Regions from separate parts of the Homo sapiens genome. Here regions 2 and 3 are each linked to region 1. Evidence: fine-mapped expression QTL. A gene starts in region 1. Each other region holds a variant in brackets. All regions are shown on one strand. Distances are from middle to middle. Region 1 holds the start of TPD52 (tumor protein D52). Region 2 overlaps TPD52-MRPS28 (TPD52-MRPS28 readthrough). Region 3 overlaps TPD52-MRPS28 (TPD52-MRPS28 readthrough).

Region 1 (5,228 bases):
TATAGTAAGTTAAACAGATACAAACAATAAATATTTGTAACGGACACTCACGTTCAAGTGCTATTTATTTGTCCACAAATTAGTACATTGAGAGATTGTCTCTCCAGATGTTTATTTCTATACAATAGATCTCAGCATCAGCTAGTCAAAAATTCTTTACCACATACAGAATTTTCTGCTGATGCCAAAATTTACCTTTATGTTACATTAAAAATTTTTTAAAAAATATTGCACCTTTTTGGGCTCAAGCAATCCTCTTGCCTTAGCCTCCTGAGTAGCTGGGTTTACAGGCAAACACCACCATGCCTGGTTTAAAATTACAATATTTATTAATTGCATGGTAGAATTAAAGGATGCAGAGATGACCAAAATAATCTTTGCCCACCTGGAACTTTTTTTTTTTTTTTTGAGATGGAGTCTCACTCTGTTGCCCATGCTGGAGTGCAGTGGCGTGATCTCAGTTCACTGCAACCTCTGCCTCCCGGGTTCATGCCATTCTCCTGCCTCAGCCTGCCGAGTAGCTGGGACTACAGGCGCCCGCCACCACACCTGGCTAATTTTTGGTATTTTTAGTAGAGATGGGGTTTCACCGTGTTAGCCAGGATGGTCTCGATCTCCTGACCTCGTGATCCGCCCGCCTCGGCCTCCCAAAGTGCTGGGATTACAGGCGTGAGCCACCGCGCCCGACAATTTTTGTATTTTTAGTAGACACAAGGTTTCACCATGTTGGCCAGGCTGGTCTCAAACTCCTGACCTCAAGTGATCCACCCGCCTTGGCCTCCCGGAGTGCTGGGATTACAGGCGTGAGCCACCGTGCCAGGCCTGTTTTTTGATTTTTTTAATAGGCCATTTTAAGGACTTTACCACCTGGAGCTTGTAACCTAATAGGACTGTGAAACATACACTGGTAGCATCCTGGCACCAGTGCTGGGGTGAGTGCCACAGGAGAGGAGCCAAGTGCAGTCAGAGTAGAAGGACTCAAATAGAAGAGATCACATCTGGTTGAGTCAAACAGTAAACGTCCCCAGAAGACACTGGAAGATGCAGGCTGGAGAGAGCTACACTTTACATACAGCACGACAGTATAGAGATATTAATAGCATACAGTCACTTCAGGTAACTACAAGTAATTTTAAAACATCTGAATAAGTGCTTCTTTGTTGTCTGTGGAGTGCTACACAATGCTTCGGCCTAAACGTCAAGCAACACAGAAAAGAAGCCCCACTTCATTTGCAGCCTCAGATAGCTTACGAAATTGAGACACCACCTGAAGACCATGACCCATACAATCAAAGTGACTTCATGGAAGACGAGTAACTGCAAAACCCTGTGAAAACAGATTGTTAACGCTACTAATGAAAAGAACTGGATTGTTACGGGAACCTCAAACTGTCCTTTGATCAACGGACATGACGCCTCAACACGCATTTTCCAAAGATCTCTGCTGATAATTCTGACCTTCGGTTAATTTAATTAATTTCATTTGATTTAATTCATTTTAGTGTTGTCCTCAGTCCCGCACTCAAAACAGATTTTTATTATATGAAAATCTTCCTAGTCACCTAAAAAATCCGCATTCTATGGAAAAGACTATATAATTTTTCAAGAGATTCTTTGCAATTTTCACCTATGCTGGTTTATGACCTAGTTAGAGAAGACATCATAGGGCATTATTTAGGTAATAAAATACAGAGAGAAAAGAGCCACTGGCATTTCTAAATAACGTTCCTGTGTTTCCTACTGTAAGTATAGGAAAGTAGGTGTTCGCAGATGCAGAGAAAGGGCATCTCCAAGGCCTCGGAGGAAACTTTTGATTTTATAAATAACTTGATGGTGGAAGGCAAACGCCATCCCGGTTCCCAAGCAGGCTCCACGCAGCCTCCATGGCCGAGTCCATCTCCTCGCCGTCCTCTTCCCTCCTCCCGGCCGACTTCCAGCCGGTGCGGGAGTCGGGGTGCGCCCGGCCCTCCTAGCGCTGCGCCGCCCGCGCCGACGTGGCGGAGCGCACAGGTCGACCGGGTCAGGTGGTTGGGTGACGCCCCAGGAAAGCGCTCCAGGCCGAGGGCGGGCGGCGCCGCCGCGCCCGACGCCTCTGGGGGTGGGGACTTCGCGGGAGTCGCCGGCGGAGGCGAGGAGGAGCTCTGCGCGGCGCGGCGGGCGATCCGAGCCGGGACGGGCTGCAGGCGGGGGTGCTGCAGAGGACACGAGGCGGCGGGCTGGAGACATGGACCGCGGCGAGCAAGGTGAGGGCGCGGACCCAGCGGGCTTGGGCTCGGGCTTGGACTCGGGCTTGGACTCGGGCTTTGGCTCGGCGCGGGGCTGAGCGCGGCCCGGCGGCTCGAGCAGGTGCCGAGCCTCCTGGGCCGGCGCCGCAAGTTGCATCTCCCGGATCCGGATCTGGCATCCTGGGGCCCTGGAAGGAGCGGCTCTGGCGGGGGCAGATGGGACTGCATGTGTGAGTGTGAGTGTGCGTGTGTGGGGGAGAGGGAGAGAAGGTTCTGGGAGGTGGCGAAGGGGCTAGCGTCAGGGGCTGGCGGCCGTGATGCGCTTTGGGTGGAAAGCCGCGTGAAGGGAGCACGGCGCAGCCAGCTCCTGTAAGTGACTGGAACCAGGAACAGAGGACAGTGAGTCGCTCTCGTCCCTCCAGGTGGGAAACCCCTCTCTCCCTCATAAATTAAGACTTTCTGCCTTCTTCTAAGTTCAGGTGGTTAGGATTTTTGGTGGCGTATGACCCATGGGGGGTTTGGGAGGCAGATATTTATCATACTAGAAACCCCCAGATTGTGGAGTGGTGTCTGTGGGTTTGAGGGAAGAGAGCTTTTCGTAGGAAGGGTGAAATCCCACAACACAAAACCTTCAGTCTAATTTACCATAGCGTTGGGTGCACTTGCTTCTGAAAACAGCTCAAGTGAAATTACCCCCAAATAGAGCAATAGTAGGCCATGGTTTTCAGATTTAAATAGTTTCATCCTAGAGATCTCTGCTGATCATAAGCCTGTGACTGTACGCAGATGTGTGTGGCACGCTTTTAAAAAGATACATAAATGCTGAAAAAAGAAAACAAGGTAGGTAATCTTGGGAAGTGAGGATAGGAATCACTCCTGTTTTGAGCCCTGACACAAGTTTTCATGTATTGCTTATTTTCCTCCAGTATGTGCCGTCATGTGTGCATTTTTATGTAAATCAAACCATATTCCAAATATACTATCTTGTACTTTATTTTTTTCAGACTCTGGTGTTTTTTTTGTTTGTTTTTTTGAGTCTCCACCTGTAGCCCAGGCTGGAGTGCAGTGGCGGGATCTCAGCTCACTGCAACCTCTGCCTCCCTGGTTCAAGTGATTCTCCTGCCTCAGCCTCCCAAGTAGCTGGGATTACAGGTGTGCGCCACCACAGCCCGGCTAATTTTGTATTTTTAGTAGAGACAGAGGTTTCTCCATGTTGACCAGGCTGGTCTCCAAGTCCTGACCTCAGGTGATCCACCCGCCTCAGCCTCCCAAAGTGCTGGGATTACAGGTGTGAGCCACTGGGCCAGGCCTGTACTTTACTTTCATTTACTTGTAAGATAGACTCTTTGGAGTCTTTCAGCTCTTTCCTCGCTCCCCTTCAGATTAATTTCAGACTTAACACAAGTGCTTACAAACATTACATACAATATGCTTTATATGTGTTACCTATGTGTATATATATATTATACATTACCTGTATAACGTATATATACACATACATATTATTATCTAAATTTTAAGCTTCTTGAGGTTAGAAACATTTCATCTTTGGTTGTCCTGAGTGGGATAACATGATGACTTGTACATAGTAGACATGCAAATGTTTGAGTTAGAAAGCTTGTCACATGTCTTGTATATATTGTTAGCCGGCTTAGGGGCCACCATGTAAGTCAGCATTATGTCTGTCTGGCTTTCAATGGGGGCGACGCAGGACGGGGGAGACATGACGACAAACGTGCCCATGTGTATTTGTATACTAATCTGTTACACACTGTCGTTTGACATAATGATGTTTTTAGAATAACTATGTTTGGTACTTGTCAAAGTAAATTAAACGGCTGTGTTTTACTTACGTGAGTGGAGTAACTAGTTTTAGTAGTGTTTGTGTTCTAGCTTGGGTGGTAAGAATCAACAGTCATTGGTAGCACTGCAGTATTCCAACTTCTTGTGTAGTTTTTATAGGACTAGTTTAAGTGTCTAATTCTAAGACATATTTTTTTCAAATCTTTATCTTGTAAGATGAGTCTTTTCGTGTCTATAATTTTCCCATATGTTCTTTGGGTGAGGTGGAGGACTCTGCTCCGAATGAAAGAAGAGGCACTGCCTTGGGAGGGTCAGTTCATTTACTCCAAAGCTTTGCTGTGTTAGAACAACGTGGCCAAGGCTGGGTGCGGTGGCTCACACCTGTAATCCCAGCACTTTGGGAAGCTGAGGCAGGCAGATCACTTGAGGCCAGGAGTTTGACCCCTGTCCAACAAGGTGGAACCCTGTCTCTACTAAAAATACAAAAATTAGCTCGGCGCGGTGGCACCGGCCTGTAGTCCCAGCTATTCAGGAGGCTGAGGCAGGAGAATCACTAGAAACTGGGAGGCAGAGGTTGCAGTGAGCTTAGATCAAACCACTGCACTCCAGCCTGGGCGACAGAGCGAGACTCTATCTCAAAAAACAAACAAACACAAAACAAAACCACCTGGCCATTCCTTACTCTTGCTTCCACCTGCCTACCTGCCTTTTCATCTTTATGTTACCAGTGCACACAGTAGGTGCTTAGAAATATGTGTTGACTGCCTAAGATGAGTGAGGAAAGTGTCCAAGAGCAGGCCCCAGCCATAGTAACCTCTGTGTCCCTCCAAATCCATCTCTTGTTTCCCACTTTCTCCTGTTCTGTTTTCCCTGTCTATTCTCAAGAAGCAGAACTTAGCCAGAGAGTTGCTGATAAGGCAGTGCTGGGCTTGGAGGATAACTTTACATGGAAGATCTTAGAACTAGTAGAGTGGATGACTCAGTCTTAAGTGAATCTGGAGCAAGACTCCTGCCTTAAACTGGAAAAGGCACAACCTGGGATTTTAAACCTGGTGTTCACTAGCAAACTGTGTTGGCTGAAATAAGGTTTATCAAACTCTGTGATTGTCTCCTGAATTGTGATTTTGGCAACATACTTAAAACCAAAGCAGAAAATTTTAGGATTTGTTGAACTTTTAATAGTTTTTAATGTACATGGAG
Region 2 (5,228 bases), 53 kb after region 1:
ACCTGTCATTCAATCCATCCATTCTTTTCTTTTTTTTTCTTTTCTTTTTTTTGAAACAGAGTCTTGCTCTGTCGCTCAGGCTGGAGTGCCGTGGCAGCTCACTGCAACCTCTGTCTCCTGGATTCAAGTGATTCTCGTGCCTCACCCTCCTGAGTAGCTGGGATTACAGACGTGAACCACCATGGCCAGCTAATTTTTGCAGTTTCAGTAGAGACAGGGTTTTGCCGTGTTGGCTAGGCTGGTCTGAACTCCTGACCTCAGGTGATCCACCTGCCTCGGCCTCCCACAGTGTTAGGATTACAGGCATGAGCCACCGCGTCCAGCCTATTATTTTTTTTTAGAAATATTCATTTAATTCCAATTTTGTTGTGCTTAGATACCATCTACTGAATCCTTATATATATACATGGTACAAGGTATGTAAACCTCTGTCTGTTATAAATATTTTCTCTCAGGCTGTCACTTGTCTTTTAACTTGTGCTATTCTATCATAACAGAGTTTTAATAGTATATAGTCAAATTTGTCAGTCTCTTAGTAACTTTTGAGTTTTTTATCCCAGAGAGATCCCATCAGTACCCAAATTATTAATGTCCTGTAGTTTTTCTAACATTTTAATTGTGTATATTTTCTAATGTTTTCTGCTATAGCTTTTTATTTCATCTGGAATTTCTGGCTTGAATTAGGGAAAGATTTATCTTTTCTCCACTCATATAAAATGTAAGTATTTTCATACATTAAATTCCTTTATATTTGTGGATCTATTTCTGGACTTGTTTCAAATGTTTTGTTTATTCTTATGCCAGTACTGTGTGGTTTTAAAGGCCATATATTCTTTTAATTTTAAAGAAGCTTATATTTTCTTTCACATGGTGTGAAACAAATTTTACATGAACAGCAAGGTATAAAGTAAAAAATTGAAATCCCTTTTTCTTGAACTCATTCACTATAGTTTCCCTTCCCAAAGTAAACTACTGTTAAATTTCTTGACTTTTTTTCCCCCAGAAAACTGTCCATGTACTAGCACATACACAAAGCCACGGGTAGAAGTTTACAATGGGATAGTATACACATTATTCTTTGCTTTGCTTTTTAAAAAAATAACATCTTTAAGATATAATTCTGATAACCATACAGCTCATTCAATCTATAATTCATTGGTTTTTAGTGTATCCAGATACTTGTACAACATTTACCACAATTTTAGAACATCAACCCAAAAGGATACTCCTTACCCATTAGCAGTCACTCCTCATTCCTCTCCCCACTTCCTTACTCCCAGCCCTAGGCAATTACTGATCTACTTTCTGTCTATAAATTTGCCTATTTTGGATATGTCATATAAATGGGTTTATACATATGTGGTCTTTTGTGTCTGGCTTCTTTCACGTCACATGATGTTTTCAGGGTTCATCCATGGAGTAGCATCTGTCATTACTTAATTTCCTTATTGCTGAATAATATTCCCTTGTATACATGTACCATATTTTATTTATTCAGTCATCAGTTGATGGACATTTGGGTTGTTTTTACTTTTTAACTACTTTGAATACTTGTGTATATTTGTGCATGTTTTTTTGTACAGACATATTGTTTTCATTTATCTTAGATATTTACCTAGGAGTGCAATTATGGGGTAATACAGTAATTTCTATATTTAACCTTTTGAGGAAATGCTAGACGGTTTTCTGAAGTGACTGTACTGTGTTACATACCTGTTAGGAGTGTATGAAGATTGTTGTTTCTCTGGATCGTCACCAACACTTATTATTGTCTTCTTGATTATAACCATTCTAGTGGGTGTGAAGCATGAGGTGGTTTTGATTTGCATCTCCCTGATGTCTAATGATGTTGGCCATCACTGTGTGTGCTAATTGACCATGTGTATGTCTTCTTTGGAGAAATGATTTATTCAGATTCTTTGCACACTTGAAAATTTGGTTGTCTTTTCATTATTGAATGGCAAGAGTTCTTTTTATTTTCTAGATACAATGCCATCATCAGATAGATGATTTTACAGTATTTCCTCACATTCTGTGGGTTGTCTTTTCACTTCGTTGACGGTGTGCTTGAAGCATAAAAGATTTTAATGTTGATGATGTCCAATTTATCTATCTTTTTTTGTGCTTTTGGTGTCCTGTCTAAGAAACCATTGCATGATCCAATGTAGAGTTATATCTGTGTTTTCCTCTAAGAGTTTTATAGTTTAAACCCTTACATTTAGGTCTTTGATTCTAAGTGTATGGTTTGAGGTAGGGGTCCAGTTTTATTCTTTTGCATGTGGCTATCCATTTTCCCCAGCACCATTTAATGAAAAGACTATTTTTCCATGTCAGACTGTCTTGGCACCTTGTCAGAAATCAATTAACCTTAACTGTGAATGTCTATTTCCGAACTCTGAATTCTATTCCATTGACCTATATGTCTATTCTTATATCTATAACACATTATCTTGATTACTGTAGTGTTGTAGTGAAGTTTGAAATTAGAAGGCTTGAGTCTGGGTTGGGTGCGGTGGCTCACACCTGTAATCCTGGCACTTTGGGAGGCTGAGGTGGGCGGATCACGAGGTCAGGAGATCGAGACCATCCTGGCTAACATGGTGAAACCCCATCTCTACTAAAAATACAAAAAATTAGCTAGGAGTGGTGGCACGCGCCTGTAGTCCCAGCTACTCGGGAGGCTGAGGCAGGAGAATCGCTTGAACCTGGGAGGTGGAGGTTGCAGTGAGCCAAGATTGCACCACTACACTCCAGCCTGGGCAATAGAGCAAGACTCTGTCTCAAAAAAAAAAAAAAAA[G/AAG]AAAGAAAAAAAAAGAAAGCATGAGTCCTCTAAGTTGTTCTCTCTTTCAAGATTGTTTTGGCTACTCTGGGTCCGTTGAATTTCTGTGAGAATTTTAGGATCAGCTTGTCAATTTTTGTCAAGAAGTCAGCTGGGATTTTGATAGGCATTACACTGAATCTGTAAATTGATTGAGAGGTATTGTCATCTCCACAATATTAAGTCTTCAGACCCATGAATATGGATGTCTTCCCATTTTTTTAGACTTGCCATTTATTTAAATGTATTTAATTTCTTTCAGCCATATTTTGTAGTTTTCAAAGTATAAATTCTCTTATTAAATGTATTCTTTTCAATGCTGTTGTAAATACAATTTTGTCTTAATTTCAATTTTAGGTTATTCATTGAAATTGTATAGATACGTGATAAGTTTTGTGAATTGATCTTATAAGCCTGCAAAGTTGCTGAACTCATTTATGAGTTCTAATAGTTTTTTAATGGATTCCTTATTATTCTATACATGAGATTATGTTACTGCAAATGGAAATTGTTTTACTTTTTCATTTCCAAAACGGATGCCTTTTAGTCCTTTTTCTTGCCTAAGTGTCCTGGCTAGAACCTCCAGTTCAATGTTAAATAGAAGTGATAAGAACAAATACCCTTTCTGTTCCTGGTCTTAGGGGAAAAACATTCGGTCTTTGTTAACTAAGATGTTAGCTGCGGTTTTCCATAGACACCCTTTATCAAACTGAGGAAGTTCCTTTACATTCCTAGTTTGTTGAGTGTTTTGATCATAAAGGGTGATGAATCTTGTCAAATGCTTTTTCTATGTCTCTTGCATCTATTTTGATGATCATATGTTTTAGTCCTTTATCTATTGATATGATTACATTGATTGATTTTTGGATGTTAAAACAAACTTACATTCCTGGGATAAATTCTACTTGCTCATACTAAATAAACTTTTTTTTTTTTTTTAACATTCCTAGATAATGGTTTGCTAGTATTATGCTGAGGACTTTCGTGTCTGTATTTATTAGAAATACTAGTCTGTCGTTTTCTTGTGATATCTTTGTCCGATTTTGGTAGCAGGGTAATACTGGCCTCATAGACTGAGCTGCATAGCATTTCCTCCTCTTCTATTTTATGCTGAAAGTATTTGTGAATAATTGGTATTCATTCTTCTTTAAATATTTGGTAGAATTCACCAGTGAAGCCATCTGGGAGTAGGCCTTTGCATGTGGGTGGTTTTTGAATATCTTTGCTTGTTAGAGGTCTTTTCAGATTTTCTGTTTATTCTTGAGTCAATTTCAGGATTTTGTGTCTTTCTAGGAATTTGTCATTTCATCTAAGCTAACCAATCTGTTGGCACACAGTTGGTCATAGTATTACTTTATAATCCTTTTTATTCTGTATGGTTGGCAATAATGATTGCTGTTTTAATTCAGGATTTTAGTTCTACCTTGCTTTTTAATGCTTTATATTTTAGAGATCTTTTTGTAAAAATTGAATTCATCTTTTAGTGACCACATAGTGTTCCATAACTAACCTATTTATGGTCATTAATGTTATGAATAATGCCACAGTTAATATCTTTTGATATATTGTAGGGTACTTTTGGTGATAGTGTGTTTCTGAGGGTAAATTCTTAGCAGTTGATTTGTTAGGTCAAAGGGATATAATGTTCAATATTAGTAGATATTGACAAATTATCCTTTATAGAGTTTGCACTATTTACATTTATTTTTCTATACTATGATATCCTTTACTTCTTTGTCTTTTATTGGGTTATTTATTTTAACAAGTTTTTGTTATATTAAGAAGAAATTAGCCTTTGTCATATGTCTTCCAAATATTTTTTCCTTGTTTATAGTTTCTTTTGACCTTGTTGAACATTTTTTGCCATACGGAAGTTTTAAAGTTTTGTGTGGTCAGATTTATCCTCCATTTCCGTTCTGGCTTCTGGACTGGTATCACTGCCATGTATCACACGGTATTACTGCCATATAAATAGGCTCTGTTAGGCTTCAAGAAACAAGTGATGGATTTTATTGAATTCATAGAGAATAAGAAAAGTAGGACTAGCCACACAGTTAAGTTTATGTTTTGGGGATACAGCAGTCTTCCAGGAGTTAGTCTGTAAGGTCTGCCCTCTGCAGGGAGCTTGATTGAAAATCTAGTAGTTGGCTGTTCAGAGATGACATTCCATTCCTCTCTTGCCTCCCTTCCTTCTCTCTAGGTGACATTCTACTGTTATGGTTCTGCTGCCTTTTCCGCCGCTTGTATGACTCTTGATCTTTCTTGTTTATTGAAGCCTTATAGCTTCTGCTCTCTTGCTCTGCTTTTCGTCATCTCTCTGTAGGTCATTGTGGCTTCTGTGCCCATTGGTAAGTACTGACTCTTGGTATCTCCATTTTAGACTCCTGTTCAGAGGAGAGATCAGATTGGTTT
Region 3 (5,228 bases), 33 kb after region 1:
GCATTTGGGAAAGGCACAGGTAGGTCTCCTTGCCAGTGAGGCTCCACTACTCACTTGTGGGGTTGACATCAGGAGAACCCAGGACTTGGGCCTTAGTGAGGTCTCACGTTCTCACCACTAAACAAAGAGAAAGCATTTATGCAGGCATCGAACCAGCGTCTGTGTGTCACAGCTGGACTGGTGCTGAAAAAATCACCAGGGCCTTAGCATAAAACAAAGGCTGCTTTATTATGTTGAGAGCATAAATAGGCTTCTTTTCTTTTTTCAGTCAGATATGAAATTAGAGTTGCTTACTGCTAACATGGAGCCTGCTGGATTGAGCTGTTTTGCTCACTTCTGCCAGATAATCAGAAGAGCCGGGTGGGGTCCCCTAGCTGGGTGACTGGGAGTCAGGCATCCATCCCCCGAACATCAGGCTCCCCATTTGTAAATGTCTTGTATTCCTGTCAAGATGGTTAGGAGGATTGAAAAACGCCGTTGTATTTTATTTGATTTTGATAATACACTTAACATGAGATCTAACCTCTTAACAAATTTTTAAGTGTATAATGCAGTATTGTTAGCTATAGTGTTCAAGTGCATTGGGAGGCGCTATCCAAATGCAACCCCTTCCCCGCCCTCACCCCCACCCCCCGTTTATTGCTACTTGTTATTTTCATGGTTGTGCTGAATTTTTCCCCAAGGCAAATCTTTACCTCTGCCCTTGAAGTTGCATATGCCCCAGAGTGGGTAATTATTAACTGTATTAATCTGGACCATATACTGTACAGTCTTTGGATAACCTGGACAGTTTATAATTTTAAATGTTTTAAAAGTTTGCAAGTCTGAAACTCTGAAAAAATTTTTTTTTTCATAAAAATACTAGCCTAGGCTGCTGATGGATGTGGGTTTCTTTTTGGGGTATGAAAATTAGATTGCGGTGATGTTTGCATAACTCTGTGAATATACTAAAAACCAGTGAACCATACTCTTTATAAAAAAATAGTGGATTTTATAGTATGCGAATTATTTCTCAAGCTGCTATTAGAAACAAAACACTGTCCTAATTGTTACTGTAAAAATACCCTTATTTTCTCCCCTCCCTGCCAGTGTCTTAGGCAGAGCAGCCATTCAGTAAATACAGGTGGCTGAGTGTTGAATAATATAGTTGAAATAATCCAAGTGGCACAAATAGATGAGAGTGGAAGTGGGGGCTGCAGTGTCAGTTGTAGAAATCTCACGGGAGGCAGACTCATGGGGTGGCTGAGACGGTGGCTCCTTTGTCAGTGGAGGCACTGGAGGAAGAAGACCCCACTAGCAGGAGAGGCTCTGGGTCGGAGGGGCTGCCATGATCCTGGAAACAGGTCATCTGGTTGGCTCGTGTTTGAAAGTTGAGAATACTAATATTTTATGGTCCAAATTTTGGTTACCTTGGCCTTGTAAATCAGGAAGCCGTCTGATGACAGGATGAGCCTAAGGTGGGGAGGGGAGGATGCGGTGAGCCACAGGTTCTCAATGTTCAGAGAGCCAGTGTCCTTAAATAGCGAGGTGAAGAGCTCAATTAGGAACCAAAGCCAAAAATGAGCTGAGGCAAGATGGTAGAACCCAGGCCTGGATCTGAGCAGTTGTCAAAAGTCTGGTTACAACATTTGAGAGTGTGGTGTTCAGCTACCTTTTTGGATTCAGTTTTAGTTTTTTATTTGCATATTCTTTTTCTTTTTGATAAAGCTCTATGAGGACTATGTTTTCAACTCCCTAGATGCATATAGTCCTGTACTCAGATATAATGTATCTAATCTCTTCCCAGATTTATAATTGCAAACCATAAGCCACTTTGAGTTGTGTTCCAGCACCTGCCGAAGGAGACGACTAAATGATATGAACCCCATTTTCCTCCTAAGAGGGCATTCAAATTCTCTTCCTCTTGGATTTTATGAAATCAGATTTCAGTTGGAAGATTCTGTCACTTGGCCTCTTATTGTCAAACACAGGTACCTTTTAACGCAGACTTCTACTGAGAAATAATTAGAGACAGGGTCTCATGGTCAGGCGCGGTGGCTCATGCCTGTTATCTCAGCACTTTGGGAGGCTGAGGCGAGCGGATCACCTGAGGTCGGGAGTTCACCACCAGCCTGACCAACATGGAGAAACCCCATCTCTACAAAAAATACAAAATTAGCCGGGCGTGGTGGCGCATGTCTGTAATCCCAGCAACTTGGGAGGCTGAGGCAGGAGAATTGCTTGAACCTGGGAGGCGAGGTTGCAGTGAGCCAAGATCGTGCCATTGCACTCCAGCCTGGGCAACAAGAGTGAAACTCTGTCTCAAAAAAAAGAAAAAAAAAAGAAAAGAGACGGGGTCTCATTCTGTCGCTCAGGCTGGAGTGCAGTAGCACAATCATGACTCACTGCAGCATTGAACTCGTGGGCTCAAGTGATCCTCCCGCCTTGGCCTCCCAAAGTGCTGGAATTACAGGCCACCCTACCTTGCTGAAATATTTAAATTCTGAAGGACCAAACTATCCCCTTCTCAAAGAACAATATGAACTAGCACCGTTATAAACTTGGTACTGCTGTAAGAGTCCTACTCCTGAGGGCTTCCACCCATCTTATTTTCATACTTATGAAAAATAATACATGTTCAAAGCAAATGAATCCAAACAGTATGCAATTAAAACTCAAACTCTCTTAGCCTAGACCCATTTCTCCCAGAGCGGCTGTTATGATCAGCCTCTGGGTGTCCTTCCAGAAATGTCTAGGCAGGTAATGTATACAATCACTTTAAAAGTTCAAATGGGAACATGTCATACACATTATTCTGTACTTTGCTTGTTTTAACTGACACGTATCTTGGATATTAAAAAAAAAATCTAACATATAGTTTCCATTTTTTAAGAAAAAAGCTTTATTGATATATAATTTGCCATAAATAATCACCATATAGTTTACCTTAAAATTCACTTGTTTTAAATGTACAATTCAGTGATTTCTAGTAAACTTACAGAGTTGTGCAGTGATCACCACAATCTAATTTTAGAATATTTTCATCACCCTGTGTCTATTTACAGCCACTCCACATCCCGTGC[C/T]CGCAGGCAAACACTTATCTATTTAGTTTCTATAGATTGATTTTATTACTCTTTTTAATAGCAACCTGTGGTCCATTTTGGAAAAATACAAACATGTATTTAATTGTGCTTTATCCAAGCACATTTAGCTTTTGCTGATGTTTTATTTTGCTGCCTGCCTACTTTAAAAAAAATTGGAAAAGATTGAAATTTTGTCTTTGAGCCATACTTGTTAAGAGTGATAAGGGAGTTTTAGCTGAAGTTGTTTGTAGATTTTCCAGTCATTACCTGTGGAACTAGGAGAAGAATTTTGGGGCCTGGATAATTATTTATATTTGAATAGAAACTGCCTGAGGTTGTTCTTGATTAGATGAAAGCCCCAGCATTTATTGTGTATTTTATGGATGTGGGTGAAGTGGAACTAAGTATTTACACATGATTGGGGTGAAGGGGGATTTATTATTTCAGTTTTTTGCCTTTGTCTCTACCTAGGAGGATTTTAGGAGCTGTTGAGTGTTCAGAAGTATGTCTTCGGATATATTCTCCATACTGTTTCTTGGGACCTTTTACTGGGTTGTGGATTTTGACCAAGTGTTTTTTTAAGAAGAACAAAGTAGTAGAACAGTATGAGACCAAAATGTCCTTCATGTTCTAATGGTGAGCACTGTTTTCTTTTTTTTTTTTTTTTTTTTTTTTTTTTGAGACAGAGTCTCGCTCTGTCGCCCAGGCTGGAGTGCAGTGGCGTGATCTCAGCTCACTGCAAGCTCTGCTTCCCGGGTTCCTGCCATTCTCCTGCCTCAGCCTCCTGAGTAGCTGGGACTACAGGTGCCCACCACCACGCCCGGCTAATTTTTTGTATTTTTAGTAGAGATGGGGTTTCACCGTGTTAGCCAGGATGGTCTCGATTTCCTGACCTTATGATCCACCCGTCTCGGCTTCCCAAAGTGCTGGGATTACAGGCGTGAGCCACCGCGCCCGGCCATTGTTTTCTTAAATGTCAACTTTTGTTTAAATGTGTGTGTGAGTGTGCTTGTTTTTTTTTTAACCTCAAAGACTGAAATTTTTTTTTTTAATTAATTAATTTATTTTTTATTATACTTTAAGTTTTAGGGTACATGTGCACATTGTGCAGGTTAGTTACATATGTATACATGTGCCATGCTGGTGCGCTGCACCCACTAACTCGTCATCTAGCATTAGGTATATCTCCCAATGCTATCCCTCCCCCCTCCCCCCACCCCACAACAGTCCCCAGAGTGTGATATTCCCCTTCCTGTGTCCATGTGATCTCATTGTTCACTTCCCACCTATGAGTGAGAATATGCGGTGTTTGGTTTTTTGTTCTTGTGATAGTTTACTGAGAATGATGATTTCCAATTTCATCCATGTCCCTACAAAGGACATGAACTCATCATTTTTTATGGCTGCATAGTATTCCATGGTGTATATGTGCCACATTTTCTTAATCCAGTCTATCATTGTTGGACATTTGGGTTGGTTCCAAGTCTTTACTATTGTGAATAATGCCGCAATAAACATACGTGTGCATGTGTCTTTATAGCAGCATGATTTATAGTCCTTTGGGTATATACCCAGTAATGGGATGGCTGGGTCAAATGGTATTTCCAGTTCTAGATCCCTGAGGAATCGCCACACTGATTTCCACAATGGTTGAACTAGTTTACAGTGTGCTTGTTAAGTAGTAATTATCAGAAATGTTGGAAAACCAGTGCCTTAAGAGTAAGGGTATATTCAGGCTTCCTCTTTGTCAGAGCTCTAACTCTCCTGGGGGGCAGGTAGGCTGGGGCAGGTAGGGTGAGAAGACTCAGGTAGTTCACCGAGATAAAACTTTGTTGAGGTTGGCTGGGGAAGTGAGCCAGTTGTCTTGGGAAGTGGGAGGTGAAAATGAAACTCCCTGTGTGACCACTTTTCTCTATCAAAAATAATAAATTATTTCAAATGTTCTAAATAAGGAGGCTTTGGATAGATTTTAGTCAGCTTGTTAGCTATTCAATTCTGGCAACAACCGTGTGTACATCTAGACTAGGGAGACGTTTACAATTAAATTCACTGGGTCTTGTGGTTGGAAGTAACCTGAAGGGATATCTATGCAAGTTTCCATCCTGTGTGTGCATCCCTTCTGTAATACCTCTGCCTGGCAGTTCAGCATCTGCACTTGCGTACGTC

The links. PIP is the estimated chance that this variant, and not a neighbour inherited with it, causes the effect.
Region 2: its variant is the best candidate, but not a certain one, in a credible set for the expression of TPD52 in whole blood (INTERVAL, PIP 0.70).
Region 3: its variant is the best candidate, but not a certain one, in a credible set for the expression of TPD52 in tibial nerve (GTEx, PIP 0.69).

The regions. Positions count from the first base shown.
Region 1 is chr8:80,168,440-80,173,667 of GRCh38, reverse strand. TPD52 (tumor protein D52) reads left to right here and starts at 2,104. Exons shown (of 8, transcript NM_001025253.3): 1 at 2,104-2,243. The coding sequence starts at 2,225. TPD52-MRPS28 (TPD52-MRPS28 readthrough) reads left to right here and starts at 2,104. Exons shown (of 7, transcript NM_001387778.1): 1 at 2,104-2,243. The coding sequence starts at 2,225. RefSeq lists a silencer at 1,943-2,272.
Region 2 is chr8:80,115,305-80,120,532 of GRCh38, reverse strand. The region is part of intron 1 of TPD52-MRPS28 (TPD52-MRPS28 readthrough); the gene reads left to right. The region is part of intron 1 of TPD52 (tumor protein D52); the gene reads left to right. Among named protein-coding and RNA genes, the nearest start is that of TPD52, 54 kb to the left of the region's middle. The variant G/AAG (reference allele first, on the strand shown) is at 2,799.
Region 3 is chr8:80,135,037-80,140,264 of GRCh38, reverse strand. The region is part of intron 1 of TPD52-MRPS28 (TPD52-MRPS28 readthrough); the gene reads left to right. All of the region lies in intron 1 of TPD52 (tumor protein D52), which reads left to right. Among named protein-coding and RNA genes, the nearest start is that of TPD52, 34 kb to the left of the region's middle. RefSeq lists an enhancer at 1,637-1,686. The variant C/T (reference allele first, on the strand shown) is at 3,063.